2 linked regions of the Homo sapiens genome follow. The protein of the gene in region 1 interacts with the protein of each later gene in a biochemical or structural test. Each region holds a gene or a part of one and is shown in the gene's direction. Other genes may lie near its edges. The genes, in order: STX3 and TBC1D30.

What was found.
Region 2: the proteins of STX3 (region 1) and TBC1D30 form a complex in vitro, tested with the Homo sapiens proteins (one study listed by BioGRID).

What each region holds. Positions count from the first base shown.
Region 1 is NC_000011.10:59,781,609-59,797,776, forward strand, and holds part of STX3 (syntaxin-3), read left to right. Parts: exon of another isoform or gene 1-143; intron 144-5,428; coding exon 5,429-5,528; intron 5,529-7,264; coding exon 7,265-7,339; intron 7,340-8,910; coding exon 8,911-8,978; intron 8,979-10,498; coding exon 10,499-10,607; intron 10,608-11,490; coding exon 11,491-11,564; intron 11,565-11,771; coding exon 11,772-11,906; intron 11,907-13,763; coding exon 13,764-13,874; intron 13,875-13,993; coding exon of another isoform or gene 13,994-14,104; intron 14,105-15,674; coding exon 15,675-15,758; 3' UTR 15,759-15,788; intron 15,789-16,168. UniProt on the Homo sapiens protein: Potentially involved in docking of synaptic vesicles at presynaptic active zones. Apical receptor involved in membrane fusion of apical vesicles.
Region 2 is NC_000012.12:64,815,995-64,832,790, forward strand, and holds the start of TBC1D30 (TBC1 domain family member 30), read left to right. Parts: upstream 1-8,652; 5' UTR 8,653-8,885; coding exon 8,886-9,039; intron 9,040-11,840; coding exon 11,841-11,902; intron 11,903-12,449; coding exon 12,450-12,515; intron 12,516-14,382; coding exon 14,383-14,508; intron 14,509-16,124; coding exon 16,125-16,310; intron 16,311-16,796. UniProt on the Homo sapiens protein: May act as a GTPase-activating protein for Rab family protein(s).

The sequences.
Region 1 (16,168 bases):
TTGCGCCCATTTTTCGCAAAGCTATTCCCACTCCTAGCTCCTTCATGTATTCATCAAAGCCTTTGCTGTCCACCAGGCGCCATCTTCCTTCCAGCTGCTGAACTGTGGCCATGGTGGGTGCGGGCGGGCTGGCGTGCAGAGAGCAACATTTGTTTTCTAAAGCAAAGAAGCAAACAAATTAAAGAGGACTTGACTGAGCAGCTCTAATATGAAGACTGCTTGGGATTCTGTCATTTTTTGGGGAAAGTGAAGGTGTATAAATTGTGAAAAGGAGGGATCATTTGACAGTTAAAATCACATTGCTCTTGTCACCTCGCAATAAGTTTTCAATACGTAAATATGCAGCAATTAATGCTCAACTAGAGGTACAAGGTACCTGGGAGTTTAGGAGAGGCCGAGACTAATTCTTAGGGAGAATAAACAGAGCTTTTTTGCTTAGCCTTCCATCTTACCCCATGCAACCTGCCAGTTCCACAAACTAGTACTTTCTCTGCTTTTCCTTGTTTAATTAGATTCCACTGGCTAATTAGGTCCAGAAGGAAGAGGCCATCCAGATCTCGAAAATAACTCCTTCCTTTTAGTTATAGTTATTAGTATAATATAGTAATTATATTTGGCCACGCCCAACATGTAGAGTGATTGACTTGGGTGTTGACCTTAGATTTCCTTGGGTGGCTACTGATGAGGTCAGACTGTTTTATTAAGACTTTTTTACAGGATTGCTATGAGGATTAAATGAGACATGCCTGTAAATGCACTGCATAGTACCTGGCATATGACAAATGTGCAGTAATTGCTGGCATTTTTGTATTTATCATTGTCATCACCTAACATTTATTGAACATGTACTTTATGTTAAACATTTGGCATGTATTGTCTAATTTAATCTTCACAAAAACTCTAAAGTGGGAGTTGTGATAATTCTCATTTCACAGATGAGAGAACTGGTGCTTAGGGACACTTACAGGGTGCGTTCAAGGTCATAAAACTGCTAAGAGAGATGGAGCAGAAACTGGAACCTGGTCTGTTTGATCTTAATTCCTTAAATCCTATATTATCTGGATTCCCGTATTACTAACAAAGCATTGAAAAGTACATTTTAGGCTGGGCCTGGTGGCTCATACCTGTAATCCTAGCACTTTGGGAGGCCGAGGTGGGCGGATCACTTGAGCTCAGGAGTTAGAGACCAGCCTGGCCAACATGGTGAAACCTTGTCTCTACTAAAAATACAAAAAAAAAAAAAAGGTTGGTGTGGTGGCGGGTGCCTGTAATCCCAGCTACTTGGGAGGCTGAGGCAGGAGAATCACTTGAACCCGGGAGGTGGAGGTTGCAGTGAGCCAAGATCATGCCACTGCACTCTAGCCTGGGCAACAGAGCAAGGCTTTGTCTCAAAAAAAAAAAATTAATAAACAATGTGCAATGAGAAGGCACTGGGAATATATTAGCTGTAAATTTTACATGGTGATTTAAAAAAAAACACTTTTAGATGTCAACACTTGGTCAGCAATACTTCTTGAGGGCTCATTTTGTAAAAAGCTTTCTATAGGGAGCGGTGGTGAGAAGACAGAGAAATAAGGATGATCTCTGTGAAAGGCAACTGATCCATTCTCCCAAAACAGTGGATTGAACATGCACATTAACCTGATGTGAGCTGAATATGCATGAACTTGGGAGAGAAGATATAGGAGCCTTCCTTAGGCGTTTACCTGGTTCAGGAGACAGGATTTAGTATTCCTGAGTTCAAACCTCAGTTTTGCCTCTTTCTGCAGTATAACCTGGAGTAAATTTCTCTACTTCTTTGAGACTCGATATTCTCATATGTATAAAAAGGAGATGATGATGGTAGCCTCATAGAAGTATTGTGAAGTGCATAGCATCATTTCTGATACAAGAATATGTTTAGTCAATTTTAGTTCTTAAATATATGAATATGCAGAGTAATTTTAGATGTCAGTATACTTAACCCCAGACAAACACATGCAATAGCCCTTAAACTTTTAGATTGGGCACTTGTCAGTTTCCTATACCCCTTCCCTGCAATTGCCTCATGATTTTTTGATTATGTGGCAAATGCACAAAAGGAAACCACATGTAGCTGCCATTTCACACCATTAAATACTCAGAAAGTCACCTTTGAGGAAAACCAGTACTTCTAAGAAAAAGCAAAGCCACGAAGTTCAAAAAAAGAAAGCTCTATGGTTGGCCACTTGCCCATCCTGAGGTCCCAAAAAGGTCCTGTGATTATTTGGTGAACTGACTAAATTGCTGTGAAATCAGATTCCCTGAAATGCCTCCAAATAGAAAGGTTGATGCGGTCAGAGGAAAGAGACCAGCTACAGTGGGTGGAGGATGGGTGGGGTGGAATGGAGTGCTCCCTGGGCCTGGGAAGTCCCGTAGGCAGGTTGCGGATAGAGCACCCAGGACCAGTTCTCCTGTGCATAGGGCAGGGTGAGTATCAGCCATCCAGTCTCCAAATGCCTGTAGTGACACTGAGCCTGAGGCCTGCCAGTCTCATCCTAGAAACTTCCTATCTCTTCCTGTGCTTCTACCATTGACTGAACTTTGGGTCAGAATACTCTTCAGTTTATAAAATAATTTTCCAGATGAGAGAATTTCTGTGACAACCAATCTGTTGAACATGCAAAATCTAAGTCCTTCATGACTTGTTAAAATTTAAAATTTGATAAACTCATTTAAAAATGTTTAGTGTGTTTTCTTCTAGAAAGCCTTTTTCCCTCCCTCAATCCTGTAAAACAGTGTAATTGCTTTGGCAAGACAGTTATGTGGTGGAACTGGAAACCATGGTGTGATGCAATGACATGAGTTCTAAGAGGGGCCAGTAGATTCTGAGGTGGTCACACCCCTAGAGTCTGTGAGTGTATTAGTTTGTTTTCATGGTGCTGATAAACACATACCTGAGACTGGGCAATTTACAAAAGAAAGAGGTTTAATGGACTTTCAGTTCCACGTGGCTGGGAAAGCCTCACGGTCATGGCAGAGGTCAAGGAGGAGCAAGTCACGTCTTACATGGATGGCAGCAGGCAAAAAGAGAGCTTGTGCAGGGAAACTCCTGTTTTTAAAACCATCAGATCTTGTGAGACTTACTATCATGAGAACAGCACAGGAAAGACCCACTCCCATGATTCGATTGTCTCCCACTGGGTCCCTCCCACAACACATGGGGATTATGGGAGCTACAAGATGAGATTTGGGTCGGGACACAGAGCCAAACTGTATCAGTGAGTATCATAGGTTGTAACAGAGGCCTTTTTTATAGCTGGGTAGGGCTGGAATGCTGCTAAACAGTACAGATAATTAAAAAAATTAACTCTTCAATCTAATGGAAAAAAGCTTCCCAGTTGGAGTGTGGAGGGCACTATTTGCATGCTGTCCCTACCACTAGCTATGTGACCTATAATTTCTTTAAACTTGTTTCCTCATTTGAATAATGGTACTGGTCCAGTCTTATAGGTTGCTTTGTAAACTCTTAAAATGCTTCACAAATATTTGGGTAGTTACCTGTATGTATGTTTACACTCCCATGATATTATTACATTGTAATTTTATTCTACATCTTTCAGCAAGCAGCTCTACTCTTAAACTCTGGCACATCTAAGCCAATATATTTATAGAGGGGAAAATCCTGTGCTCCAGTGGCAAAAGTACTGATTTGAGGGCTAGAGAGCTCAAGTATTGTTTCTCCTATTTTCTTTCTTTTCCCTTTTTTTTTGTTTGTTTTTGAGACAGAGTCTCACTCCGTTGCTCAGGCGGGAAATGCAGTGGCATGATCATGGCTCACTGTGGCTTCAACCTCCCAGGCTCAAGGGATCCTCCGTTTTAGCCCCCTGAGTAGCTGGGACTACAGGGGCATGCCACGATGCCTGGCTGATTTTTGTATTTTTTGTAGCGACGGGGTTTTGCCATGTTACCCAGGCTGATCTTGAACTCCTGGGCTCAAGTAATCTGCCTGCCTCGGCCTCTCAAAGTGCTGGGATTACAGGTGTGAGCCATTGTGCCTGGCCTCTCCTATTTTCTATTGAATATGAAGAGCTATAATCAGGTTTTGAAAAAGGTGAAGTGTCCACAGGAAAAGAGGGATGCTGGAAGCTGCATATGCATTGAGTTTTATTTTTGTTGCATCTCAGATGTTAGGATCCTACTGTATGACATTTTACAAGATTTCTGTTTGTCAATTGTTGCAATGTTGATGTGCCCTTCACTTTGAGAGTGAAGCAGATAGACCCTACAGGTGCTGAGGTCTCTCCTTCCTGCCCTGCTCCCTGTACATAGGCTTCCACTGCAGCAGGGCTGTGGTACCAGTGGCATGGGCACCTATGAAGCGGGGAGCTGAGGCTGCAGTCAAAGCTCACACAGGAATGTCTGACAGTGGCGTTCTACCTGGGAATGAAGTGCTGCTGGAAATATTTTATGATACTCACAGCCTTGTACAATCAGGAGCCTTAGAAATATGCAGAAATGGGCTGTGGCTCGAGCTACTGGGTCCTGATCGTCTGAGGAAATCAGTTAGTACAAGAACATATGTGTCCTAGAGAAGCTTGGGCTGTCTCCTGAGACCTTCATTGCCTAGTATCTCTCTTTTTCTCTCCTTGTTTTCTTTATCTGTTTCTTTCTTTCTTTTTTTTTTTTTTTTGAGGCAGTCTCGCTGTGTCGTCCAGGCTGGAGTGCAGTGGTGCGAACTCGGCTCACTGCAAGCTCCACCTCCCGGGTTCACGCCATTCTCCTGCCTCAGCCTCCCGAGTAGCTGGTACTACAGGCGCCCACCATCACACCAGGCTAATTTTTTTTTTTTTTTTGCATTTTTTAGTAGAGACGGGGTTTCACTGTGTTAGCCAGGATGGTCTTGATCTCCTGACCTCATGATCCATCTGCCTCGGCCTCCCAAAGTGCTGGGATTACAGGCATGAACCACCGCGCCTGGCCTATCTGTTTCTGTCTTTCTCTTCCTCTCATTCTGTGTTTTTCACTCTCTAGGTTTGTTCTTTTCCTTTCACTTCTTTCTTTCCTTCCTTCCTTTTTCCCCTCTCCTTCATCCTCACTCTTTTCTGTTCTCACTTTTTGGGCTTTAAGGCTCTGCCTGCTAAGGTCTGCTGATTCTCCCCCTCTGATCATTCTTCATGGTTTTTCTTAGCTCTTCTTGACTTTGGCCTGAATCCTTTCATCCAAAGTGGGTGAATGTATTACTCTTAGGGAGCAACAAGTATGGATTTTTAACAACTGTTCTGTTGAGATTACTTTATCTGACCATGGAAAGGGTACTCACTGGGCAGCTGAGGACTTTAAGTCATTATCTTCTTCCACAAACCCAGAAGATGGGCAGCTTTCACCAGCAGCTCTGCCAAACGTTTATCTCAGCCATGGACCTGTACTTCCTCTTTGATGATGAAGGTTATTGTCTTTCTGATTATAGATTGAGGAAACTCGGCTTAACATTGACAAGATCTCAGAACATGTAGAGGAGGCTAAGAAACTCTACAGTATCATTCTCTCTGCACCGATTCCAGAGCCAAGTGAGTGTTTACTTAGAACTGAGTCATCCAACAATCACCCTTTCCTTGGAGCTGAGCCAGCCTTGTTTTCTTGCCCTTCGTGAGCAGTAGGGAAGTGTACAAGTTACAGGGCACTAGTGTACATATTATCTCATTTCCCTCCCCTTTACCTTACCTGAGCTCCTACTGCCTGGCCACAGTCAAGGTTTTGTCTTCATGGTCCCACTCCAACCATTTAGCTAGACTTTCCTGTTTCCCAGCTAGTCCCTCTTCCTGACTGGCGACGATTCCCACTGCTGCTTACATACCCTGTGCCCTGTCCCTCCTCTGAGCCTCTGCGTGTACTATTTCCCCAGCCTGAACTGCTTTTCCTAGCCCTCTTTCTGAATCCTACCAGATCAAGTCCATTTTTTCTTTCCATGAGGTGTTCCAAAATGGTTCGAGTTCACAGAAATTCCTTCTATCCCTAAACTCCTGTTTGTTACCACCACCTAGGCAAACGTTTTTTCTCCCCTAATTGTTTGCATGGGTGTCCAACCTTTTGGCTTCCCTGGGCCACATTGGAAGAAGAATTGTCTTGGGCCATACATAAAATACACTAACACTAACGATAGCTGAAGCGCTGAAAGAAAGGTTTGTGCATAATTTTCCTGATATCTGCCACTACAGATAAGCAAAAAAATCCGTGCGTTCCACGGTTTGGACACGGGTGGTTTAGGGCTATATTTTTGGTTCCTTAAGAACAGGGAACAAGCCTGACACTGTCATTCCACTCTTTCATTTTTCCCATGGGCCCTCTTACCTAAAGACTGAAGTGGGAACACTTTAGCAGAGCATATGGGCATTGTCTTGATCACATTCCTGCCTTCCCAGCCAGCCTGTCTCCTGCCATCCTCCTCCTGCTTCCCACGCTTCAGCCAGAGCAACTCTGTCTGGTTCCCCAGGCATTTCCTGTTCACTCATACCCTTTACTTACTGTTTCTTCTCGTGGAATTCCTGCTTTTAGTCTCTTTCTCTACCTGGCCAACTCACAGTCCTTGAGACTCAGTCCTGCTCATCTCCATCTTTAGAGGCTTTTCCAGATCCCTCCAGGCTGTGCACACCTTGACCAGAACTCATACCTTACTCCACGCTGCATATTAGAGCTGCTGATTTATTTCTCCTTTGTCTCCCACTAGACTCTAACACCTTGCAGGAAAAATCTAGATCTTCTTTCTGATTCCATAGTTTCTAGCTCTGTTCCAAAGTTGTAGTAGGGGCTGAAGGATGGCTTTTGAATGAATGGTTATAGCTAACACTTAGTTTGCTCCATACAACCTAGGATGTGTGTAGTAGGTATGTCATAAATATTTGCCTCATTTTAAGTTGATTAGCCTTGGTTGAAATCTATTTTCCCCATAAGCTCCCTAGAACCTTCTCAACCGAAGCTCCCGTGGTAGGCTCTTTCCTCTAAAAGCAGAGTTTCCACAATTTTATGTGCTGCAGGATTACTCAGGAGGGTTGAAAGAGCTGATTTTGTGGTTCCAACCCTGGGTATTTTTATTCTGTAGACTGAGATGGGGTGCCTGGAAAATGCCTTTAAAAAAATAAGCACTCTGTGATTCTAATGACAGATGCTGGGGAGTGCGTAGGGATAAATACCATTCTGGGCAGTGGATGCCCGATAAAGCTCCCCTCCTCTGATGATGATTGCTGTAGTTCACAAAGGAATCAGTCCTCTCCTTTCTAACGGATTCTGCCTGCCTTTATTTACCCAGAAACCAAGGATGACCTAGAGCAGCTCACGACTGAGATTAAGAAAAGGGCCAACAACGTCCGGAACAAACTGAAGAGTAAGAAGGGAACAAAGAAAACAAGGCCGTCCCCACCACCATCTATCTCAGCTCCCCTAGGGTCCAGCTTTCCGAACTGAAACTCCTCTTGATGGAAGTGACACCACTTGGTCCATCTTTGCTTGTGGTTTGGGCTCTGTCCCCGCAATGATCCATTGTAGCCCCAGAAATTTACCTTTTCTTAAATCCTGACTGTACTGGAAAGAGTCCAGAATTGAAGCTAGGAGATGAGAATTAAAATGTGCTTTCAGCTGCTGAGTAGTTTTGTGACTTGGTCCTTTAACTTAGTCTTTCAACTTGTCTCTCTTTTTTTTTTTTTGAGACGGAGTCTCACTCTGTCCCCCAGGCTGGAGTGCAGTGGTGTGATCTCGGCTTATTGCAACCTCTACCTCCTGGGTTCAGGTGATTCTCCTGCCTCAGCCTCCTGAGTAACTGGGACGCACCTGGCCCATCAACTTTTCTCTTATTGGTCTTATTTCCCTGGCAACTACATACTTTTTTTTTTTTTTTTAAGACAGAATCTTGCTCTGTTGCCCAGGCCAGAAGGCAGTGGCTCAATTTTGGCTCACTGCAATCTCTGCTTCTTGGGTTCAAGTGATTCTCATCCCTCAGCCTCCCAAGTTGTTGGGATTACAGGCATGCACCACCACGCTCAGTCAATTTTTGTATTTTTAGTAGAGACGAGGTTTCGCCATGTTGGCCAGGCTGGTCTCGAACTTTTCTGGCCTCAAGTGATCCACCTGCCTGGGCCTCCCAAATCGCTGGGATTCCAAGTTTGAGCCACAATGCCCGGCCACCTACATACATTTGAATAGTCATTTTAGAGATATATAAATGCAAGAGATATCATTCAGTCTACAGATATTTCTTGGTGGGCTAGGCATACCACCTTCCCATACCCTCACTCCCCCCATTTGGGAGAGTATAGTTCAATGAAGCTACTGTCATAGATTCAGTTCTTCCAGAGCCTAGAAGGTTTACTTAGTTCTGTTGCTAGAGCCTGCATTCTTGCCCAGTGTATTTGGTGCATGCATGCTATTGATCAGAAGAGAAAGCATTATTGCTCAGCTCAATTTACCATTTCTTCCCCCCAAGTATATTGCAATAACTATTTTAACTGGAGGAGTCATTAGTAGCAGATTCCAGTAATAACAGTGATAGTGCACCTGCCATTGTGCTAGGCACTTTATGTGTCTTCTCATTTAATCTTCACATTAGTATTGTGAGGGAGGGACTGTTATTCTGTTTTACAGATGAGAGAACAGGTACATTAAGAGGGGTTAAGTGGCTTTTTCAAAGTCACACCCAGTAAGTGCCAGGGCAAGGATTCAAGCCTAAGTCTCATGGTGACCAGAACCCATGCTGTTAACTGTTATGCCAAAACCTGGTCATCGTAAAGGCTGTGGAATGCACGTCCTGTGGCTCATCTGGGAGCTGACCTTTTGAGGTGACACCTACCTGTTACATCTCCGTGGGCTGGATGTGTGGGAATGAGTGAGGAAGTTTCACTGAATAGCATGTTTCTTGGAGGCGGAGATAGGTTGCAAGTATAACCTTCCTCTCCTCTTTAGGCATGGAGAAGCATATTGAAGAAGATGAGGTCAGGTCATCGGCAGACCTTCGGATTCGGAAATCCCAGGTAAGACTTTTCCTGGTCTCATGATTAGCTAGTCCAATCTCTTATTGTTTTCCCTTAACTGTGGAGGGATTTTTTTTTTTTAATACAATCCTTATTTTGAAACTCAATTTGAAGACCTGGTAAAGGAGAACTCTCCAGGTTGAAATAGGGGTCAGGGCCAGAGTCCAGCCCTTTTGGCTCCTCTCCTGTACTCTCCTTCTCTAAGGAGGCCCCTGAAGAGCTTTTCAGGCTTCCTAGAGCACAGCTTAGGATTTAGCGTGCCTTCTTGTTTTACAGGAGAGGAAATTAATGTCTTCTAACAATTGTTAGTCATTGGTTGTCCAGTTTGGAGCTAGGCACTTTAGGGGTCATCAAAGATAGGATCCTTGTCCTTAAAGAACTGGCATGCCATTGAAGCGGCATGGAAAGCTATTACCTAAGACCCAGCAGGAGGATGCGACCCAGCAGGAGGATGCGATAAGAAGACACATGCATGGTGCTCTCAGCATCAAAAGATCTCAGGAAGAATGGGGGGTAGCCAGAGGAGGCTGGGCCAGAGTGCCAACATGAGCAGCCTCAGGAAGTAGTTTCCCCTCTCTGAGAGGCACAGGGGCAGGAGTGAGGCACGCACATATGTGTGTGTTGGCAGCAGTGGTTGGTAGTGGTGGTGGGTAGACGTAAGGGGCAGACGTGAAGACAATAGGCTTTCTGTAGAAAAAAGTTTGCTGTGGGATAGTGGACACATAATTTTTAGTAGATAATGTAGTGCCACATTCTAGAGGTCTTTGAGGACCAGTCTGGGGAATTTGGATCTGATGTTATAACTTACAGGCATTTGCTTCAGGCGGCAGTATATTAGGAGGATTATTATGGTAGCCATTTGAAAGCCGTTTACAAGTGGGAAAGAAGCAGGAAACTGGAAGGTCCCTAGTTAGGTTTTTGCAAGGGTTTTGGTCTAAATTTGTATGGTGGTAGTGGGTTTGGAAAAAGTATATATATTGGCGATTTTCCAAAGGAGAAACCAGTAAGTAGGGCTTGATGCTGAGAGGTGAGCAAGGAATAAAAATTATTAGGAAGGTTTTAGCTTAGGCATGCAGGGCTGTTGAGATAATGCATCTACTTATAAGCAAGAAGAGTTGGGGAGATGAGTTTAGCGTAAGAACTCAAGGATCTTTGGTAAGTATGACATGTGGGAAGGGAATCTGACAGTTTTAGAATGCAAGCCAAGTGTTGTGCCAGAAAAATGCTACTAGTCCATGTGGATGTAGGGCTCAGAGATTTAGAGATGACCTCTGGCCTCGCAATTACCACGTGAGGTCAGCAGTAAACCGGTTTCAGTAAACTGGTGCTGAAACCATGCTCTGGAAAGGGCAGTGGACTCTCCCAGTGGCACAAAGCTAGGAAACAAAAAACTTGGTTTGACACCTGGTTTTTTGATTCCAAGTCCAGTGCTATTGTAGATGGCTATGTGGGGGTGGGGAGGGGTTCTATAACAGTTACAGAACCACTGGGGCCTGACTGCATTTTACATCATCCCACAGCACTCTGTCCTTTCTCGGAAGTTTGTGGAGGTGATGACCAAATACAATGAAGCTCAAGTGGACTTCCGAGAACGCAGCAAAGGGCGAATCCAGCGGCAGCTCGAAATTAGTATGTACTTGAGGTTTGGCGTGTGCCCTCCACCTTTCCTGCCACCTGGTTGTCCATCCCAAGTTTTGAGGCCCTGGTGGAGCAAGCAGGAAGCACATTTTGTGCCTAAGTCTAGGGCAGCTCCTGCACCACTGGCACATCCCGAATGCTGTGCTGTAGGCTGAAAGGTGACACCGTGTTTATCAGGCCCAAGTAATTTTATTGTATGGGGTCCAGCATTGTCTCCTATATAGAGGGGAAATGCTTGCCAAACAGTTGCTCTCTTGTGGACTCATTGTATCATTTTGCTGTCTGTTTGACAGCAAAGCACATTTAAGAAATAAAAAGTGTGGTGTAAGTTGCTGGGAGGATAAAAGTATGGTGTAAGTTGCTGGGAGGATTAGAGAAATAAATAAAGCCATACCCTTTAGGAATGTAGTAATGTGGAAGGCAGGGCCCCGTGGAGTGGAAGGTGCTTTGGATGAGAGGAATGGTATGAACATAATCAAGAAAGAGCAAGTGTGTTTAGGAGTGGCAGGTTGTCTAGGGTCTGGAGAAAGGGTGTGTCTGGAGTAGCATAAGGTTAGGATGGATTGAGGGAGGGCTTGCCCATGAACTAGCATGTTATGAGGGCCTTGGACACCATAGTGTAGTGAATGGGGCAAGGAAATGTTCTGAGCTGGGAAGCAATGTAATGAGATAAGTGCTTTAGGAAGGTAACTGCTGATAGTGTTAAGGATGGCTTGGATTAGGGCAGAAATAAGATGAGTCAGGAGGCAATTGGGGGAGTGTTGTAAAGGCCACGGTCTTTATAGGGAAGTCACGTTCCTAATTTTCAGGGTCCTTATCAGATGGTGTTTCACCGTGATCTTATATTTGACGCTCTACTTCTTTTGTTACAAAGCTGGCAAAAAGACAACCGATGAGGAGCTGGAGGAGATGTTGGAGAGTGGCAACCCGGCCATCTTCACTTCTGGGGTGAGTGCCCTGTGTGCTCGGATAGCACATCCCTCTCGTGAGCAGGGAGGCCACTGCGGAGCTCATGCAGTCCAGCAGGTGGAGGGGGAGCTGCAGGTGCAGGGAGTTCAGGGAGGCAAGGAGCTCCCCAGGAGCGTGCATGAGGGCTGTGGCAGGGGCAGCCTTTCTTGCAGGGGTAGCTAACAGTCTGTGTGTGGCCTGTTGTAGATCATTGACTCACAGATTTCCAAGCAAGCCCTCAGTGAGATTGAGGGACGACACAAGGACATTGTGAGGCTGGAGAGCAGCATCAAGGAGCTTCACGACATGTTTATGGACATCGCCATGCTGGTGGAGAATCAGGTAAGTGGCAGTGAGTCCCAGCGTGGGGAGGGAGGAGAGGAAAGCTCAGGGTCTACTGAGAACAGGGAGAAAGGGAATACTGGAAGCCAGTGAGGTAGGGTGGGAGAACCATTGGGAATTTGCATAAAGGAGAAACAGAATCCCATGGGAAAGTGTGCATTCAAATTGAATGTTGACACTTTGGGTGATCTTAACCTTGTCATTCTTGCCTGTCCCTTTGGCCTTGCAGTCGTTGCTAGTTGATACAGGGTTTGATGTGTTCTGTCAAGTACCCAGTTTTCCTGGATTTTTGATTTTTTTTTTTTTTTTAAGATGGAGTATTGCTCTGTTGCACAGGCTGGAGTGCAGTGGCGTGATCACAGCTCACTGCAGCTTGACCTCCCAGGATCAAGCAATCCTCCCAGGATTTGTCTTTTTTTCTTTCTTAAAAATCAGAGATCCGGGCTCCTAATGGTGACGTTTTAAAACAGCCTCCTGATATGGACTAGTTCACTGATGACATTGAAAATGTGATCTTTTCTCTAGTTCACAGGGAAGACTCAGGTTTAACATAAATTTTTATTTTTTTCCATTTTTTTTCTGTTTGTATTTTTTTTTAATTTTGGCACCTTTTGCTAAGGCACAGAGCAGACAACAACATGAATGAAGGAGTAGCAAAATAGCATTGACAGAAAGACTCGAAACACTCGTGGTGCTAGTTTGACAGCTTACTTTGTCCCAGGCATGCTTGCTCGGGATAGAATTCTGGATTGCCTGCATAGGGCGCTAGTTTCGCATAGTTAGATGGTTCCTAGTTCTTATGGGACAGTTAAGTGTGCCACAGGGTCATGGTGCTGTGCACTGTTGCCATGAACTTCCAGCTGCTCTGACACTTGGGATAGGAGAGAAAATTGCTTCCATAGTAGGCAGACTGCACAACCTAGTTGAAGCTCGAGCACAGCTTGACTAGTTTTTGACATTGGTTCCCTGCCGAGGGCCTGGATGCTTTCCCCCCATTCCCTACTGGCCTCTGAGACCATTTCTCAAGTCCCTCCATCCCACCTCTTCTTTTCCCCCACACTGCCTTGCCGAGGAACTGGCTTGAGATTCAAGTGGTGGTAAGTGCCTTGTTCTGTTTACAGACTGCCATAAAGTGATAGAGTTGGGTTGGGTAGTTGAGGAGAATTCCTAAAATGCCTAAGATTAATTGGAATGATCAAACTTCCCTGTCAGGAAGTGATTGCTAGGAAATGGTTGGGAAGCTTATCAAGAGACCACTGTCTGGAAGGGAAAATATAACCAAATAGCTTGGGTAAACCCAATGTCTGTCAGTTAAAGGGCCTGGAAATAACTTAGAGAAAGCAAATGTTCCCCACCTCAGATAGTTATTGAGCACCTACTGTGTGCCAGGCACTCTTCTGCAGTTAGTGAATATACTCAATTCAGGCTGAATGATGTTGATTCAGGTCTGAATGACCAGGAAGAGGCCAGCATCCTAGTGATGTCCTAATAACAATGAGATATCCTTATTTTGGTTCCTCTCCATGTGCTTAAGTGTAAAAAAAATAACAAAGGTTGTCTGGGGATATCTCAGAGTATATTTATAGGTAGTTACTAGGTATCTAGATAGTATGTTCTGGATGCCTGGTGGAGTGCTGGTCACAGAGAAGTAGTAAAATTCACTGAATGTTTCTTGAACAAGTGACTGCCACCCCACCACCAAGGACTGTGAATGGGTGTCCTATGGAAGGCCATGCATCAAGGTTTGTGGATGCTCTTCTTGCCACTGAAGATTGTAAGAAAGAGAATCCCTTCCCCGCATTGGCTAGGACTGACCTGAGACGTTTACTTGGTGTGATCAGAGTCTGTTCTTTGCAGGGTGAGATGTTAGATAACATAGAGTTGAATGTCATGCACACAGTGGACCACGTGGAGAAGGCACGAGATGAAACGAAAAAAGCTGTGAAATACCAGAGTCAGGCCCGGAAGGTGAGACTCTCCTGTGGCCTTCAGAGAAGAGAGTCCATTTTGTTTGCTGTGTCTCGCTCTTTCTCTTCCCTCTCCCTGTCTCTGTTTCTGCTGCCACCACCTCTTGCATCTGGGGAAAGGGATCCATGATTGACCGTATTGAGAACAACATGGACCAGTCAGTGGGCTTTGTGGAGCGGGCCGTGGCAGATACCAAAAAGGCTGTCAAGTATCAGAGTGAAGCCCGGAGGGTGAGCACCTTCATCTCAACTGTCCTTCGTCTCAGCTGTCTTACTAGTATCTCTTCTCCCTGGCCACCCCTACCTGTGTTCTTGAGCCCATGCCTCCCTCCCTGTCGTAGCCTCATCAACCCCTCCCTCAGCTTTTCCTAGAGACAAGCTGCCTGCCCTTCCTTCCCAGGTGTGCCTTGCATGGATCTGGCTCACAAGCTATCTCCCCAAAAACCCACACTTGAAAGGCAGTTCTGTAGGATGGATGCATGGCCCAGGTGGTGCTGCTAATCTTCTCCTGGACTTAGCTCATGAGGCTTTCAGATGTTACACTTGACTCCTCTGTTCAGAAACCTTCTCTTCATTGTCTTCCACTCCAGGCGCCCAAGCTCCGCCTCCCTTCTCTTTTTCTCTACCTTGTACCTAGCTCATGCTAACTGCTATCTATACATTATGTCATATCTGATGGAGCACCTGTTATTTCTACTTTATAAATGAGACAGTTGAGGGTCAGGGGCTCAGTAACTGGCTTCAGGCCACCTAGTAAGTAGAGGCACTGGGATTCAAGTTCAGATCCCAATCATTCTGTTTCTACCACACCACTGTATTTGCCCACCCTCTGGTGCCCCTGCCGCTTAAGGACTTCTAGGCTTCTGTGCTCACGACTGTGGTTATCCAGCTCTGGTGGCGTCTGCTTTTTAGACTTCTCTCCTTTGACTGGTTCTCTTGGGCTCTGATATTGTTGTTGTTTAGTTCTTTGTTTTTCATCCAACTTTACCTATTGCTTATGCAGGGATTTAGGGGACTGGGAAGTTATTTTACATGGTGAATCCAGGCTGGGTGGCATTTTCTGATATCCAGGCAGTGTACTGGGTCTGACAGGTAGGAGTATGGGCAAAAGTAGGAAATTAGAACTCTATCAAAAATGCCTTTACATTCCCTCTTAAAATGGAAAAAATCAGTCAGTGACTTTTTATCTTGGCCAACTGCTCCTTAGAGACCCCACGATAGTGGCTCTGATTCTATCTGTCCACATATACAGAACTGCAGTGTGAGCTGAGAGCTGAGAGAGGCCCCATATTTCCCTCTGCTGGCATTCCTAGCCTAGAAGTAATTTAAGAAATTTAAACTGTCCTAGGCTGGGTGTGGTGGTTCACACCTATAATCCCAGAACTTTGGGAGGCCGAGGTGAGAGGATTGCTTGAGCCCAGGAATTTGAGACCAGACTGGGGAACATGGGAAGATCCTGTCTCTACAAAAATAAAGAAAATGAGCTGAGCATGGTGGTGCATGCCTGTAGTCCTATGTACTCAGGAGGCTGAGGCAGGAGGATCACTTGAGCCCAGGAGGTCGAGGCTGCAGTGAGCCATGATCATGCCACTGCACTCTAGCCTGAGTGATAGAGAAAAACCCTGTCTTAAAAATAAATGAAGTATCCTAGAAGGATGTCTGTATGTAGAGATGTAGGCCTCTTACTCAGACTGGTAAGATATTTTCTATGTAGAGGTGACAGGGGTTAGGTTTTGGATGAGTTGTTATTTTTTTGGTTGTTTGTAATAATGATTTGTTTTTGTCTTATTCCTCTCTCCAGAAATTGATAATTATCATTGTGCTAGTAGTTGTGTTGCTGGGCATTTTAGCATTGATTATTGGACTTTCCGTTGGGCTGAATTAAGAGTGGCCTAAGAGGCTGCTGCACTGAAATGTAAGTAAACGAGTGGTTCTTGGGGACTCTGGATTTGGCTCCTCAAGAGGAAATTAGCTTGGGATTTCAAATTCCTCTTCTTTCCCCCTATGATTGTCCTTGGACACACTGAGCTTTCTAAAACTTTCAGTAGCCTGTGGATTCTTTATCTCCTTATAGTTCTATTGGTTTCTGGCTGCAGTACGTGGATGAGCTCTCCGTTTGTTCTTATCCTGTAGATTCTGTCCCCAATCTCTGTCTTGTCGTATTACCACTTCTCCCAGCATACCTGAGCACCCCAGGTGACTCCCCTTACTCAGGAAGCATGCTTCTAAGTTGGGTACATCTCTGTCTTGGATCTGGAGTCTGTCTTCTGAATTCTTACTGATTTTCATGGATGT
Region 2 (16,796 bases), on another chromosome or scaffold:
GTTCTTAATAAATATATGAAAATTTGATTTGTTCAGAATACTTTTTTTTTTTTTTTGAGATGGAGTCTCGCTCTGTTGCCCAGGCTGGAGCGCAGTGGTGCAATCTTGGCTCACTGCAACCTCCGTCTCCTGGGTTCAAGCGATTCCTGTGCCTCAGCCTTCCAAGTAGCAGGGATTATAGGCATGCACCACCACACCTGGCTAATTTTTGTATTTTTAGTAGAGATGGGGTTTCACCATGTTGGCCAGGCTGGTCTCGAATTCCTGACCTCAGGTGATCTGCCTGCCTTGGCCTCCCAAAGTGCTGGGATTACTACATGCATGAGCCCCGGCATCCAGGCCCAGAATACTCTTTTTAAGTCAAGAGAGTGTAATACCTTGTAGAAATATTCTTAACGAGGACTGACACCAAAAGGATTTCTTTGTTTAAATTTCAGTTTATCTGAAAACACAGCAACTCAAACTGTATTGTCCAAGCATTGCTGTTGGCCAACATTTATATTGGATTGAGGAATTCTAATAGAGTAATAAGACTGTCTGAATATCAGTTAAATTGGTCTCAGAGAATTCTAGGGTTGGAAGCTGCTCTACTGGTATTGCTAGTCTGGCCTCACCTCATTTTAAATGTCCTTTCACAGCATCCCCGACTGCTGGGCTTGCAGCCTTTGCCTGAGAACTCCAAAGCAGAGGACATTTATGATCTCCTGAGGCTGGATGTTATATTATAGTCACAGCATTCTTTTGTTCCTTTCTTTTCTTTTCTCTTTCTTTCTCTTCTCTCTTTTCTTTCCCTCCCTCCCTCCCTTCCTCCCTCCCTTCCTGCCTTTCTTCTTTCTTGCTTTTCTTCCTTCTATCAGGGTGTTGCTCTGTCACCCAGGCTGGAGTACAGTAGTGTGATCAGGGCACAATGCAGCCTTGAAATCCTAGGCTCTCAAGTGATCCTCCTGCCTCAGTCCACCAAGTAGCTGGGACTACAGGTGTGAGCCACCATGCCCAACAGAGCATTCTGAAATTTTGCTGACATCTGCCTCACCACAGCTCCCACTTAGCAGTTCTAACTTAGTCCTTTGGAGCAAACACAAAACTAATTTCACAGTTTCTACCAAGTGAGTGAGGGCACTAGAGGAGTATGCGGCGAAGACCTCAGTGGGGTATCCTGGCCAGTCAGACTCACCCTGTGGGTCAGAGTCTGGGTCCTGTGCTGGATAGACCTCTGGGATGACTGCTCACAGCGCCATTTTAGCCTCTAGTGCAGCAACAACAAGCACTAATCAAAGGACAGTATTGAGCGCCTGCTTTATGCCATGACTTTCATTATGTCATTTAATTCTCACCGTAACTCAAATATCATTATTCTAAAGATGAGGAAACTGAAACCCAGACATTAAGTAACTTGCTCAAGGACATAGAGGAAGCAAGTACTGGCATCAGAATTCTAACCTTTGTCTGCTGCGTTGCCTCCTGGAGGGTCTCACCAGGGGTGATGACCTGACCTGTGTCTCTTCACACGTCTCCTCATTGGAGCACACGTTCTACATTGTTTCTTCTGAATGAACTCAACCTGGAGAGCGAAGGCTTCCAGACCTGCCAAACCAACATTATTGTTGATTCCAATCTCTCTCCTTTTCCGGTACTTCCCTCTTGTCATCACCAAAATCAAGCATATTACATTCGAACTCATCACCCTTCTCCTGTCTAGGGACACATTTCTAAGTTAAATCTACCTCAATAGATATGAGAAACCTCTCCTTTCATACCTCTCCTCAACAGGGTCAAAAGAATCTTTGGGCCTGGCACATGGCTCATGCCTGTAATCCCAGCACTTTGGGAGGCCAAGGCAGGCGCGTCATTTGAGGTCAAGAGTTCGAGACCAGCCTGGCTAACATGGTGAAACCCCATGTCTACTAAAAATACAAAAATTAGCCGGGCATGGTGGCATGCACCTGTAATCCCAGCTACTCAAGAGGGTGAGGCACAGAAATCACTTGAACCCAGGAAGTGGAGGTTGCAGTGAGCCGACATCCCTCCACTGTACTCCAGCCTGGGCAACAGAGTGAGACTCTACCAAAAAAAAAAAAAAAAAATCTTAGAATGGCTTGGTGTAAGGTTGGGGAATCTCAGCTAAATGGTTCATCATGACCAGGTTAAACAGTTATTTCATCTTCTGCAGTGATGAGTGTGAGTCTTCCAGTTCTATTCCTGATGTGGAACTAAAGAGCTGAATAGCACAACTGTAAGAAGAGCATACATGAGCTTTGTCCTTGGCCTGTTTTCAGGTGAAATTTAGTAGCTCAATGAAATGGAGCTCTGGGAAAACATTGCAACATATATAATACTTAAGATGTAGCAAGAATGGTATCTCTCCAATTATTCACATAGTATTTTAAAGGACCTTTCACACAATCCTTGTGTCCTTGTCACTACTCACTCAGTAAACTGTAAACTATTTTTTTTTTTTTAGACAGTCTCGTGCTGTTGCCAGGCTGGAATGCTGGAATGCAGTGGCGCAATCCTGGCTCACTCAACCTCTGCCTCCCTGGTTCAAGTGATTCTCCTGCCTCAGCCTCACAAGTAGCTGGGATTACACGCACGTGCCACCACGCCCAGCTAGTATTTGTGTTTTTAGTAGAGACGGGGTTTCACCATGTTGGCCAGGATGGTCTTGATCTCCTGACCTCGTGATCTGCCCGCCTCAGCCTCCCAAAGTGCTGGGATTACAGGCGTGAGCCACTGCACCTGGCCAACTGTAAACTCTTTGAGGGTAGCGTATGTACTGTGTTCATAATTTTCTCTCTCATAGTTCTTAGTACCGTGCCTTTCCCACAGCATCTGATTAATGATTTTTTTCATGAATAAGTGAATGAATAAAAGAAATATAAAGGTGTCTTTATATGGTCAATATCAATCTAGCTCAAGTAGTAGTGAGTCAGTTTCGGTCATTTTGAAGCAAGAAAATACTTAACAGGAAATACCACGACAAGAAGAATACGATGAGATCTAAAATCTTTGGTTAGTTATGCATCTAAGGTTACATGGATCTGGCAGCAGAGTTTTAAGTACATTTCTGTATGACATTCTGAGTGTGATTTGGTGTTGGAATTTTAAAGCCTCTCTGTTCCATGCTTGATAGAGTCCTTTCTCAAAAATTAACAAAATACAAAAGCTACACCTGATTGTCTTAAAGGATGCCTGTATTTAAATAGAGAAGTTATTTTTATGACTAAGAAAAGAAAATCATATAAATAGAAAATGTCCCATGTAGGTAATGTGATCTGTCAAATAATTGTAGTTTTTTTCTTCCCCCTCAATTTCCTCCTGCTGCCCTGCCCCTTCATCTCTGTCATGAGGGGGAAACTGTTACAATGCTCATAGTCTGTGGACTCTGTCTTGGATAATGAATTGAAGGAACTACTTTTTTTTTTTTTTTTTTTTTTTTTTTGAAATGGAGTCTCGCTCTGTCACCCAGGCTGCCAGTGCAGTGGCATGATCTCGGCTCACTGCAAGCTCCGCCTCCCAGGTTCAAGCGATTCTCCTGCCTCAGCCTCCCAAGTAGCTGGGATTACAGGTGTGCGCCACCACACCCAGCTAATTTTTGTATTTTTAGTAGAGATGGGGTTTCACCATGTTGGCCAGGCTGGTCAGTCTCCCGAAGTGCTGAGATTATAGGCATGAGCCACTGCACTCGGCCTTGAAGGAACTACTTGTTAAGTCCCTACTTTAGTAGGTCTGAGGAAAGTGTTAACTTCTTGTAGAAAAGGCCACAGATCTTGTCTGGTTAGCAGACGCCACTTCACTATTCAGGAGCTGTTTACACATGTTCAAAAATTGTGGGATGAGGAGAGAGGAGGAAGAGTGGCTTTTATGCCACCAGACCTCCATTCTTTTTATTATCACAGGTGCAAAATGTCCCCATCTCCTGCCGAATGGGAGACAGCACTAGATCTGGTGGTCTGATGAGATCTCTGATGCTCAGCTTGTGTGCATATCAGCACCTGCCAGGGAACTCCGCAGCTGTACAGATGAGTTCCAGGCCCACTTCCCCAGAGCAGGCTGGCTCCCTGTGGTCTCTCTCTCCTCATAGCAGGCTTCCAGGGCCTTTTCTCTTGGTAATTGTCAGTCCCTGAAGATAAGCACGTAGGCCCTTTTTATTTTAAGACTTTACTGTTAAACAAAAAAAATAGCAGCATTAGGAAATCACAGGTCTCAGACCCACTTCCCCTTCTGGAAGCCCCTTGGGACATAGTTTTTATTCCTTGTGTTGGGCTTTCTTTTCTTACTGACTTCTTCCCCCTTCTCCCATTAAAGGAAAAGTTCGCTCTCAAGGAAACCTCATTCCCAGCATGTAGGCCTGAAGATGCAGGGTATGCCGAATGGTCCATACTTTTTTTTGTTTCAGCCTGGGAGCTCACATCTGTGGGGGATGTCCTCAGGTTATTAGCTCTGTGACATTCGGGGCATTTCCTCAAAGCCTTCATTTTCTTTAGCAATCCAAATAACATTATCTCATCCAATGTGAAGTGTTCATTAAGCCTTCCTTCCCCTAAATTCAGCATAAGTCATAACCATTGTAGACTGTGGCAGTGTATAATTTGCCCAAATGTGAATTCACTATTATTTGATTGGTAAAGCTTGATTAGTAAAGAATAATGGTAAATTGGCCTGGCTCCTGAGATTCTCAGGCAAAGTCCATGCTGGCTTGAGTTCTCTGTAAGTTGACTTTAGATGACATCTTTCACGTTTGTAAAACAATATTCCAGACATGAAATAAAAAACTGTGAGTCACACAATCAACATAATACTAGGCTTGGGCCATCGCTGCTTTTAGAGTATTGTGTTTTAGTGCTCATGTAATTATCTGTTTGCTATAAAAGTTGGCAGTCCTGACTTTCCTCTCCAATGTAAACAAAATAATATTATCTAATTCCTTTGCTGTTTATTGCCATCATAGCAGAAACTCTTAAATTTTATTTTAAAAACAGAGTTAGATTTTCCTCGTAATAGATCTAAAAGAGGTGAAATTGAATGTTCCTTTTGCAAGCAAACAAGCTTCTGTCACTACTAGTAAAGAAAAGTATTACAAGTAAAGAAGAATCTAAAGAGAGGTCTTTTTATCAGTCATGACACATGGGTGAGTTGACAGCCTAGAGTCTAGATGTCAGCTTTGGCAGTCTGGAAATTTGGTGTCTTCAGGTTACTGACTGGTAAGTGAACTCAGGGGTATTGACTGCTATTAACTGGTCAGTATATTCTCTGTGCTGCAGCAGAGTCTATATGGGAAATCAAATGACAATCCAAAGTTTGCTTGGTGAGCATGACGTCAGAGCCAAAGGGAGTTGGATGGTCTGAGTGGCATATGTCACAGCCCCAGGGGCAGGACGTCCTCCTCTCCACTCCAGAGACAGTGTTGTAGAACAGAGCTGATTGCTTGTCCTCTTGGCTTGCCTAGTGATGGAAACCGAGCATGAATAGCCTCTCTTGTTAAAATAGAACACAAAACCCTCTAAGATTTGAGCATATGAGAGGTCTGGAAGACGAGACTGTGCATGCAGTTACCAACTTGTCCTGCTGGATTTTCCCTCTCCTGCCAGTTCCCTCTCTTTGACTTCGGGTGTTCATCACCATCTTCAGCCCCAGGGTATACTGTGCCCTCTAAAAAACTGGTCAAAGGGAAGCATCAGACCTCTTCCTATGGCTCTCAGTACAACTGAGATAGGCTGCAACAGCCAATGAGTGTCTTATTAAAATTAATACAAAGCTGAAGGATACAAACATGTACCAAAACTGTAAAAAGTTGATGGTTGATGGAGGATAAATTTCTGTACCGGAGCTCGCAGCAAAAGGTTGGGAAATTTAAGCCAAGCAATTAGTCATGACCAGCTTAAACAGTGACTTCATTTTCTAAAGTGATGCCTTTTCAAAGAGTACTGCCCTTTTGAAAGCATCTTTACCTCTGCCAGGCAGCTACAACTGAATAGCTTGCATGTCCTTTATTAGCCTGCTTTACTTTTGCAGATGGCTCATCTCATTTTTAATAGATTCTTTTACAGCTCATTCTTAGGGTTGCACCATTTCTGACATTGTCCTCAAATTCTGGGAAGCGTCATAGGAATGCCTTCTTTTTCTGGCTTGTTTAGGCTATCTTTATGAAGGCATTTAAAAATATTCAATATTTTTTCAATCAATAGCAGCCATTTTTTTTTCTTTTGATACAGGGTCTTGCTCTCTCACCCAGGCTGGAGTGCAGTGGCCAATCATAGCTCACTGTAACCTTGAATTCCTGGGTTCAAGTGATCCTCCTGCCTCAGCCTCTCAAGTAGCTAGGACTACAGGCATACACTACCACACCTGGCTAAGTTATTTTATTTTTGCAGAAACAGGGTCTTGCTATTTTGCCCAGACTAGTCTTGAACTACTGGCCTCAAGTGATTGTCCCACCTTGGCCTCCCAAAGCACTGGGATTACAGACCTGAGCCACAGCACCTGACCCAGCAATTAATTGCTTTTTGTTTTTGTTTTTACTTCTGAGGCAGGGTCTCACCATCACCCAGGCTGGAGTACAGTGGTGCGATAATGGCTCATTGCAGCCTTGACCTCCCTGGCCTCAGGTGATCCTCCCACCTCAGCCTCCTGAGTAGCTGGGCCTACAGGTGTGTGCCATCATGCCCAGCTAATTTTTGTAGCTTTTTTTTTTTTTTTGTAGAGATGGGGGTTTGCCATGTTGTCCAGGCTCAGCCATTGTTTTTCAAGTTCAAATTGTTTCATCTTTGGCCAATAGGAAGGAGCCTATTTATGTGACTCTTGTGTCTTTTTGACTTGACCCCATTAATTGTGAAACATTTCCTTTCTTTTTGAGCTCATCAAAATGTTTCAGGGTCATCTTGTACTTTTTCTGTCCCAAACCTGGAATCAGTCACTCCTCAAAGGAGCCTTAGTTCCTTTGAGTGGGGAATGGTTTTTAGAGACCATAACCTGGGTGCTGTGGGTGTTCATTGCTGCTGAGTTGTCCTTACTTCTAAACCTATTCAATGAATGTATGTATTTTTTTGAAAAGAAAAAAAAATGAGTTCATACTAGTGTTTCCCATATAAATATATAATTGTAATATTTTAAAGAAAACTTAATTACTTTGGTTATACACATATTTTCTATTACACTGAAAACATCTTGGCTCCATTTGATGTTAGCATACTTATTTATTTGCTTTATCCTGTAGTGGATATAAGAATTTAAGAAATATGAATATTATTAATAACAATAATACTACTGAATGAAATGTAAGGTTTCTTTGCAGTTTTATTTGCTCTGGGAATATGTACAACTGTTGATGTACAGTCATAATATTGTGTTCTATGTCAACTTAAGAGAGAATTATTTTTTTCTGTGTTCTTATGCTATAAGTGGGATAGTCCATTAGGTTGATTTGTTTCCATTAATTTTCAATTGTTAGGGTTTTCTTTTACAATTTAAAAATAATTTATTCATTTATAGTCAGGGACTAGGTCTGTTGCTCAGGCTAGAATGCAGGGGTGCAATCATAGCTCACTGCAGCTTTGAACTCCTAGTTTCAAGACATCCTCCTGCCTTGACTTCCCAAAGTGCTAGGAATACAGGTGTGAGCCACCGTGCCCAGACTATTTTATGTATTTTCAAATTTTATTTTTATTTTTATGTCTTTTTAAGAGATGGGGTCTCGCTATGTTGCCCAAGCTGGCCTCAAACTCTTGGGGCTAAGCAATTTTCCCACCTCAGCCTGCCAAGTAGCTGGGACTATAGGCATGCTGTTCCATCATCCTGGTTTTTTAAAAATTTAATTTGTTAATATTATTAATATAGTGTTATTCCAGAGCCAAAACTACAGGAGGCACATCAAGAGAGGACTCAGTTTTCCATTCTTGTCTCCTCCACGATGTTCCTTCTCCTATACAAGTTTTCTAATTTGTTTTTGGTTTATCCATTTAGTGTTTCTTTTTATAAATATTAGCAAACACAAGTATCTTTATATCCCCCCCCCACACCCTTTCTTTCATCCATTTTAATGGTAAATAGTCTATTGGTGAATATTGCCGTTTGAGAATGACTTTTTTTTTTTTAAACCATAATGATGGGCAATAGTTCAGAACTACTGAAGTCTGGCTGGAGAGATGAGGAACATTACTTTTTAATACTGCTTGAAAAGAGAACACTTTTTTTCTGGAAGCCCATTTTTCTAAAAGAAACAATAATTTTTTTTTCCTTCATTTTCTCCGCGCCTCTCTAATCTGCCAGGAAATAATTCAACGCAATTCGGGCTGAAGCGTGTGCCTCGCCGCCTGCGGTTGGGTCATGGCCCCTTCTGAGACTGCTCGGAAGTGGGAGAGGATGCTTGCCCTTACGGGTGTTCTGCCCCTGAGACTGGCGCCCCTTGGTGCTCCCTCTGTTCCCTCCCAGATCTTGGGAGAAGCACGGACATCTCTGTTTCTGCTTTTGGTCCCCGAACGCAGTTACGCGCCCACTGGCTCCCTGTCTCTGGCGCTTCTGGGCACGGGGGAGCTGGGGCGGCCCCGCCTGCGCACGGCGGTGCCGGGATTGGGGGCGGGCACGCCGCCTCCGTCTCCCACGCGCTCGCTCGCTCGCTCGCTCCCGCCCTCCCCGCCTCGAGCGATCTCCTGCCTCAGCCTTGCAGGCTCCGCACTGCAGATGCCTGCTGGCTTCCCTGCGCTCGGCGGCTCCCGCGGTGCCCCGTAAGTCCCCGTGACCCTCCAGCACCAGCCGGCTGTGCGCTCCCTGCTCCCACGGGCCGGTCAGCCGCAGACACTCACCCAGCTCCGCGAGCTCAGCCGCTCAGCGAGTGGGGTAGCGGGGACCGAGACGGACGGTAGCCGTGCCAGAGCCCGGGGCGCTCTCGGATGCGGCAGGACAAGCTGACCGGGTCTCTGAGGCGCGGGGGGAGATGCCTGAAGCGGCAGGGCGGCGGCGTGGGCACCATCCTGAGCAATGTGCTCAAGAAGCGCAGCTGCATTTCCCGGACCGCGCCCCGGCTGCTGTGCACCCTGGAGCCGGGTGAGGACCCCAGGGCTGCAGATGGGGCGCTGTAAAGTAGCGCCGGGGCTGCCCGCGCTTCTGCCTTAGCCTGACTCCGTCTAGGCCGGGGAGCTCTGGGGAAAGTCCGCGTGCCACCTGGTGCGGGGCACCGCGTTGGCACCTGCAGGGAGCGATTGGTCTGGAAGGGTAGAGGGCAGACGGGGGCCTGGGTGGGGCAGCGGCCACCCCAGGCGCGGAGAACCCGCTGCTTCCACCCTCTCCCCGCGGACCCCCACCCTGCGGCCTGTGTGCTCGGCTTTCTCCGCGTGGCGGGGAAGTGCGGGTGGCTGCCCGGGCCCTCAGAGGCCGCACCACCTATTGTGTTCCAGGCTCGCAGGAAGCCAGACCTTGCGAGAGGTGTGTGGGGGCGGAGAGTGGCACAGGTTTGACACTGCAGGTCGGAGGAGGAAGACAGTGGCTGCAAAGGCAAAATCGGGTGTTATTTTCCCAAGAGTCCCTTCAGCGTGAGTGCCGGGGTCAGCTCGAACTGGAGCCTGTAATTTGTGAGTGCGAGTGGGGAGCAGCAGGAGATCCTTTTCATAGGTGAGGTCCAGGAACGAGCCTGGTCGTGCTAGGCAAGGCCCTTCCCACTGTCAGCCTGTGTTTACCCATCCCTGCTTCTCCAGACTGCATAACTCCGTGTCGGCTCCATCACCCGGCATCCCTCCCCGGGATTTTAAGAGCCTGGCCCTAGCGCGGGCTCCTGGGCACGGAGGTTTCTGGCAAGGAGTGGCTGCAGAGGGAGTTGGCTGTACTCTCACTGGTGCTTGGCGCTCACCTGTTCCCTGGAGTGGCACCGGCTGCGTTCCAGGCGGGTTCACGGTCCCCGGCCCCCGCCCCCCAGCGCCAGCGCCTTGGGGACCTGCTGTAGAGCCGCAGGAGAATCGAGCTGCAGAGTCCCAAAGGGTGGGATGCGGCACTGCCTTTCCCAACCTCGTGGTTTCTTTGTTGTTCTCCCCTAGGAAGTGTCTAGTTGCAGAGGCTGTAGTATTTATTCACCATCTTCCTTTACCTCTTTTTTTTTTCTTTTAAATCTCCTTCCCACGTTAAAAGTAAGTGTTTTGTATTTCTGAATCCGGAATAGCTGTGATTATCAGATGAAACATAAACCTTCTCTCTGCCCGTATTCTGTTAGAAGAAAAGAAAAGTGGGGTGAAAGTGACCTGGTTTAAGCTTTTGCATGCAGGCGGCGAATCAATTTCAGTTAAATCCTCTTGCTCATTTTTGATCATGAGAGGATAGTTGTGGTTTTGGCCAACTAACCCCTGCTGGGTTTCACTATGAGAAGGCAATCGGCATGATGCCCAGCAGGTGCCCCGGAAAAGTCAGAAGAGCATATTGGTCAGACATACAGGGAATCCTTGTAGTGTGGCAAGAATAAGTCAGCGCGGGACCGAATTTCCTGGTCTTTGTTATCAAGCAAACGTCATGATTATACGCTCCTCCATTCAGCACCTCGCGTCCGGACAGCAACCTCACTTGTTTTCAGCGTGCCTTAAAGCGTGCGCTGGGCTGGAAACACTCCCGTGGCCGTTGTTATCACCGTTCTATGTTTGGGCAGGACTTCGTTTAAACCACCTCAGAGAGAGGCGGATCCATGTGGTACTTAATATTCCTTCGGAGAAAAAAAAAACTTATCTATCCAGGCAGAGTATGGTTATGGCCCTGAAGCTTTAAAAAGAAATATCAAGGCATTGATTGGATGCCTGGGATTCTCTGCCACAGCTTACTTTGGAAACCTAGGACCCAACTCAGGAATTTACAGCGCTCTTCCAGGGTTCCAAGAACACCTGCATACTGATATGGGCTTGCAAAAATCAGATACATCTCTTTCCAGCTTCTTGACTCCGTGTATATATATATTTTTTAAAAGACCAGTCTACTTGATTACTTACTATTATTTCATAAATTCTGAAGATTGCTCCTATTCATACCAACCACTAAGAAGTGGAAGTTGTGGAGAAGTTTTTAGTACACCTAATCTACAATCAACAATCTTAGAAACAAAAATGCCATCATTTGACTTTTGAAATTTGTAAAACTTAATGTTATTGATAGTATTTGGCATTTCTTGGTCCTTGAACTTTTGGGCAATAATTCCTTTAAAAAATGGGGCCGGGTGCCGTGGCTCATGTCTGTAATCCTAGCACTTTAGGAGGCTGAGGCAGGTGGATCACTTCAGATCAGGAGTTTCAGATCAGCCTGACCAACATGACGAAACCCTGTTCTACAAAAAATACAAAAATTAGCTGTGCGTGGTAGCACGTGCCTATAATCCCAGCTATTTGGGAGGCTGAGGTGGGAGGATTGCTTAAGCCCAGGAATCCAAGGCTGCATTGTGCTATGATTGTGCCTGTGAATAGCCACTATACTTCAGCCTGGGTGATATATTGAGACTGTATCTCTTAAAAAGAAGAAAAGGAATTGAGACTGAGATAGGTTAGATAAATTGTTTCAGTCTAGGAACCAAGTCGAATGGAGGACTGTATGACTCCAAGCCTGTGGTGTCATTTTTTGTTTTTGTTTTTGCTTTTGTGGTACTCCAGGCATCTATGTAAACCACCGTCATATGTAGTAAGGCACTTTCTATTGCTGTAGGGTATTTTCCTATTTTAAGAATCAATATGCTTACCTTTTGGCAAAATTGACTAAAATTTAGTAAAGATACATACTTTAAAAAAAATTGTGATGATTCAGTAGAATCAAGCTTTTACTAGTATTTTTGATATAACTTGTTATAGTCTCCAAAAATAACATCTATTTATGTATTTTTCTTTCAGGAGTTGATACCAAGTTGAAATTCACTCTTGAGCCATCTTTAGGTCAAAATGGTTTTCAGCAGGTAACTTTGATTTTGAAAACACTCTTCTTTTGGGGTTACCAACAGGGCACATTGAGATATATTCTCAAAGTGGAAATAACGTATTCTTTGATATGAATGTGAAGATGAGTCACTTCAACAATATTTCAGTTAAAGTAGCTTTTGAGCTACAAGTGGCCTGGGTTTATATTTGCAGTGACAAATTTTGCACTTTCTATTAATGGTACATGTGTGAAAAATTTTAAAATGAATAAATTTCACACCTGTACCATAATGTCTTTTATTCTGAACCCCATAATATATATTTTGGCTTATTAACCAGAGCTTCCCAACCATTTTGTTTGTACTGCAAAGGGGTCACAGATGTGTTAAGGGTGCCCAAGGGGTGGGACGTGGCACAGTAATAGCCATGGACTGATCACTTCTGTCTGAAAGAAGCTTTGACTGTTTACCCCATTGTGCTGTGCAAATTTCAGCACATTCTATGAATGTCAAGATGGGAAAAAGATTGCAAAGTGCTTATCTAGGTCACTGTGATCACCTCCTGGGATTTCTTCTTTGTTCCTAGTGGTACGATGCTCTCAAGGCAGTTGCCAGGCTATCCACAGGAATACCAAAGGAATGGAGGAGAAAGGTAAGGAGGACTCATAGGGCTAGAATACAGAAGGATCATCACTGCCCTTCTTTAGAGCCTCTGGAATGTCAAAAAATATATTCTAGGTTTAGTTACTTGAAAACCTGTCTTGATTATTCATTCATGCAATAAATATTTATTGATTATTCTGTGCCAAGTAATGTTCTAGGTTCTAGGGATATAGCAATGGAAAAAAACAAAACAGACCAAAGTTTTTTGTCCTCATGGAGCTTACAATGAATAAAATATAAAGTATGTCAGATGGTAATAAGTGCCATGGATAAAAATAAAGTGTAGAGAGAAATAAAGAGCGTTTAGGAGAAAAGGGGTAAGGAGGTGGAATTTTAAATAGCAAGGTGACATTCGAGTAGGCCCCTGAAGGAGGTGAGAAGCCAGCCATGCAAGTACCTGGGAGGAGATACTCCAGGCAGAGGGAACAGCCAGCGCAAGCACCCTCAGCCCTCAGGCGGGAGCATCTTGCATCTGGGTTGTATTCAAGCAAAGATGGGGTGGGGCGGGGCTGGGGCACAGTGAACAAAGGGGGAAGCAATAGGTGAGGGGGTCATAGAGGTAATGTGGTGGGTTGAGGGGTGGCAGATCGTGGAGAACCTGGTGGGCTATCATAGGTCTTGGGCTTTTGCTCAGTGTGAGCTAGGAAGCACTGGGAAGTTTTGAGCAGGGGAGTGACATGATCTGACTTTTATTATGAACGGGCTACTCTGGGTACTGACTTGAGAATATGAGAGACAAGGGCTGAAGTAGGGAGACCAGTAGGAGACTTGCAGTAGCTCAGGCAACAGATGCATCAGGGTTGTGGTAGTGGAGATGGAAATCCTAGACGTATTTTGAAGGCTGAGCTTACATGAATTCCTCTTGGACTGAATATAAGGTATAAAAGGGATGTCAAAGATGACTTCAGGATTTTGGCCTGAGTGATTGGGAGGTAGAATTACTGTTTACTCAGATGGGAGGAGTAGGTGAGGTGTGTGTGTGTCTGTACGTGTAGGTAGGGTAGGTGGTGGAATAAGTGATTGGTTTTGGATCTGTTAAGGTTGACATGCCTATTAGATATCTAATTTGAAGGTATCAAGTGAGCATTTGGATATATGCTTCTGAGGTTAGGAGAGAAGTCTGGCTGGATATATAAATCAATGTTTATTTCTGCTAAATCATGTTTAAATACCAAAACTTGAAATACACACTTAGGATATTAATTTATAAGCCTAATCTTTATATTTCTAGAATTTGAAAATTGAGGGTTCCTCAAAATAGTCATGAAAATGACATTATGAAATATAACTTTCAGAAACAGATTTTCTGGATAAGATAATCAAAGGGTAAAAATATCCAGTGGCTCTTTTAAAAAACTTACTCATTATGGGAGCCCATCTGTCAGTTTTGTGTATGTGTGTGAGAGGGATGGTTTAAAGGCAGAGGCCACTCCATGGTGAAAAAAAGCCCCATTCACCATGAGTGACCAGATGGCTCTTGCCTAAGTATGGAGAGCAATACAGAGCCAAGTAAAACAAGCTTATGAGATTATACAGGTTATTCAATGAACAGAAATACAATTTGAAAATCTTCTTGGTTTGTCTTTCTAACAGTATCCCTAATGCCTGGATTGCTGCTTGACACATAGTGGGAACTCAACAAATATTTATTGAAAGAGTAAATGAAAGGCCCTAAATGGTGCAAATCAGTGCAACAAACATTTCAGTGAGACTCTTGTAGATTTCTACTTATGAGCGATAGATAGCTGGTCTAGGGACACTTCCCATTTTCTTGTCGAATGCAATAACTACTTTCTAATAAAGGTGAAGTTATATATTCTACTTTGGCATTCTCCTTTGTCTATGTAATATTTTAGGTTTGGTTGACCTTGGCAGATCATTATTTGCACAGTATAGCCATTGACTGGGACAAAACCATGCGCTTCACTTTCAATGAAAGGAGTAATCCTGATGATGACTCCATGGGAATTCAGATAGTCAAGGTAATGCCCCTGAACTTGGCCTGTCATCCTAATATAGAAGAAAGACTCTAAAAGCCAGTTGCTTTTTGGACAGAGGATCAAATGATCTCTACCTTCTGGTTTGAATGTCTGTATATTTTCTGCCTTCTCATTTCATTAGCTTTTTCATGGGGAACCTTGACAATGTGTTGTCTGCATAAATTTAAATGTTACCGGTAAGAAGAAAATATTTGCAAATGAGCTTTCATTCACATTCAACTTATTAATCTTCCTCACACTATAGGAAGGACGCTTTGTCATGGGTCAATGATGCCAACTGGATTTTTATATAAAAGTCACTGATTGAAAAAGTTAGTTAAGTATATTTCATATGAGAATGATTTGGTTCTTATTAGGGTCTTTGATAGTTTCTTAACTGCCAATTTCTAAAGACAGGTTCACAGGTGGGGCCTACTTCCAACCAAATACTTGTGGGTTCAAGCCAGCTGTGTAGGCAGTTGTGGCTCGCTTACCTGGATTATTACAGTTGAACAGAGCCTGGTGCTAAAAGCCAAGGATACTGATTCTGTTTGATCCCAGTATTATCCTCTTACATAAGGCTCTAGCACATGGTTTTTGATTTTATATGAGTACATTACAGTGTGATACTCAGCTGGGGTTTTAAAAGGAAAGTTGTTTCATCCAAATTTTGGCCACCTCAAGATGGCTAATGTTTTGGCATATTTGGAGGTTTTTTTTTAAGGAGGAAGTACTAACTAAAATGAGCTACTTTCTGTTCTAACTTGGTTTCAGACAAATGCTAAAAAAGTTATGCAATTTTACATTGTGTACTAAAAAGCCTTTGCATTATTCACATTTAAGCTATATATTTGGAATTTTAGAATATGTTTCGCAGAGATGAAGTATCTCATATTTGAAATATTTCCTTTTTGTCTAACTGGTGAATTAAGGCAATGCACCTTTTGTAACAATCATCTTTTAAGAGTATCTTTTGTTTTCTCATTGAAGTGAATGCTGTGTCAGTTAATGACTTCAGCTCTTGAAAATTGTAGTTCCTGCTTAGTAATTAAATTATAGATATTGCCTTCATTAAAGCATAGCAAATATTTCTGTCTTTCTTATATACATTCATAAAATAATTTGAATAGAATGATTTTTCTCTCTATAATCACATTTTTTGCTATTTTGATTTCACTCCTTTATGTTATTTAGAGTTTTGATAGCTAAATATTATACTTTATTTGTAGAAAGGAAGAATGTTAGCCTCAATCATACATGTATTGTGATGACTATTGTTTTACCTGAGAAATATTATTAAAACAATCAATTTACATGAAATTATACTGTAATTATTGTTAATTCTGAGCTACTTTTTGTGGTAATCCTGGAAACGTTTTAAGTTGAAAATTTGCCTGACTGAAATTCCCCTTGCAAATCTCTCTTAAACAGCATATTACAAAATATTATGAAAAAGAAAGCTAAAAATGCATTTTGGCTCATATGTATAAAAACATACACATTTTAAAAAAATTTTATGTCGATGATTTGACTCTGTTTATTGAGTCAAAAAAAAAAGGTATTGTTTTGGAAAGAATATTAGGAGTTATTTTTGAAAATATTGTTTCCCTTCCATTTAGGACCTTCACCGCACAGGCTGTAGTTCTTACTGTGGCCAGGAGGCTGAGCAGGACAGGGTTGTGTTGAAGCGGGTGCTGCTGGCCTATGCCCGATGGAACAAAACTGTTGGGTACTGCCAAGGCTTTAACATCCTGGCTGCACTAATTCTGGAAGTGATGGAAGGCAATGAAGGGGATGCCCTGAAAGTGAGTAGCAGGCTCTGACAAAGGCCATGGACATTCTTCTGAGAGTGAGAAATTGGAACCATAATTTCTCTTCCTTGATGTCTCATCCTTTTCCAAGGTGTTTGCCACACCTTTGTAATGACCTATGATAGCATTTCCTCCAGGTTAGAGCCATGTCAAGTGACAGATTCATGTAGCTGCCAACTATGAGGCAAATGATTATGTATTTAGTCTCATTTATAAGACATCATATTTTTAAAGCAAGTTAAATATTAATTGTATTAATTATTCATTGCTGTTCAACAAATTAGCTGCTTAAAACAGCAAATGTATTATCTTACAGTTTCTTTGCGTCAGAAATCTAGGCACAGCCTAACTGCCTCAAGGACACATCACTGTTGCTGTTGGTTGGTGTTGCGATCTCATCTGAAGGCTCAATTGGGGGTGGGCATTGGCTTTCGAGTTTGTTTATGTGGTTGTTAGCAAGATTTAATTCCTCACAGGCTG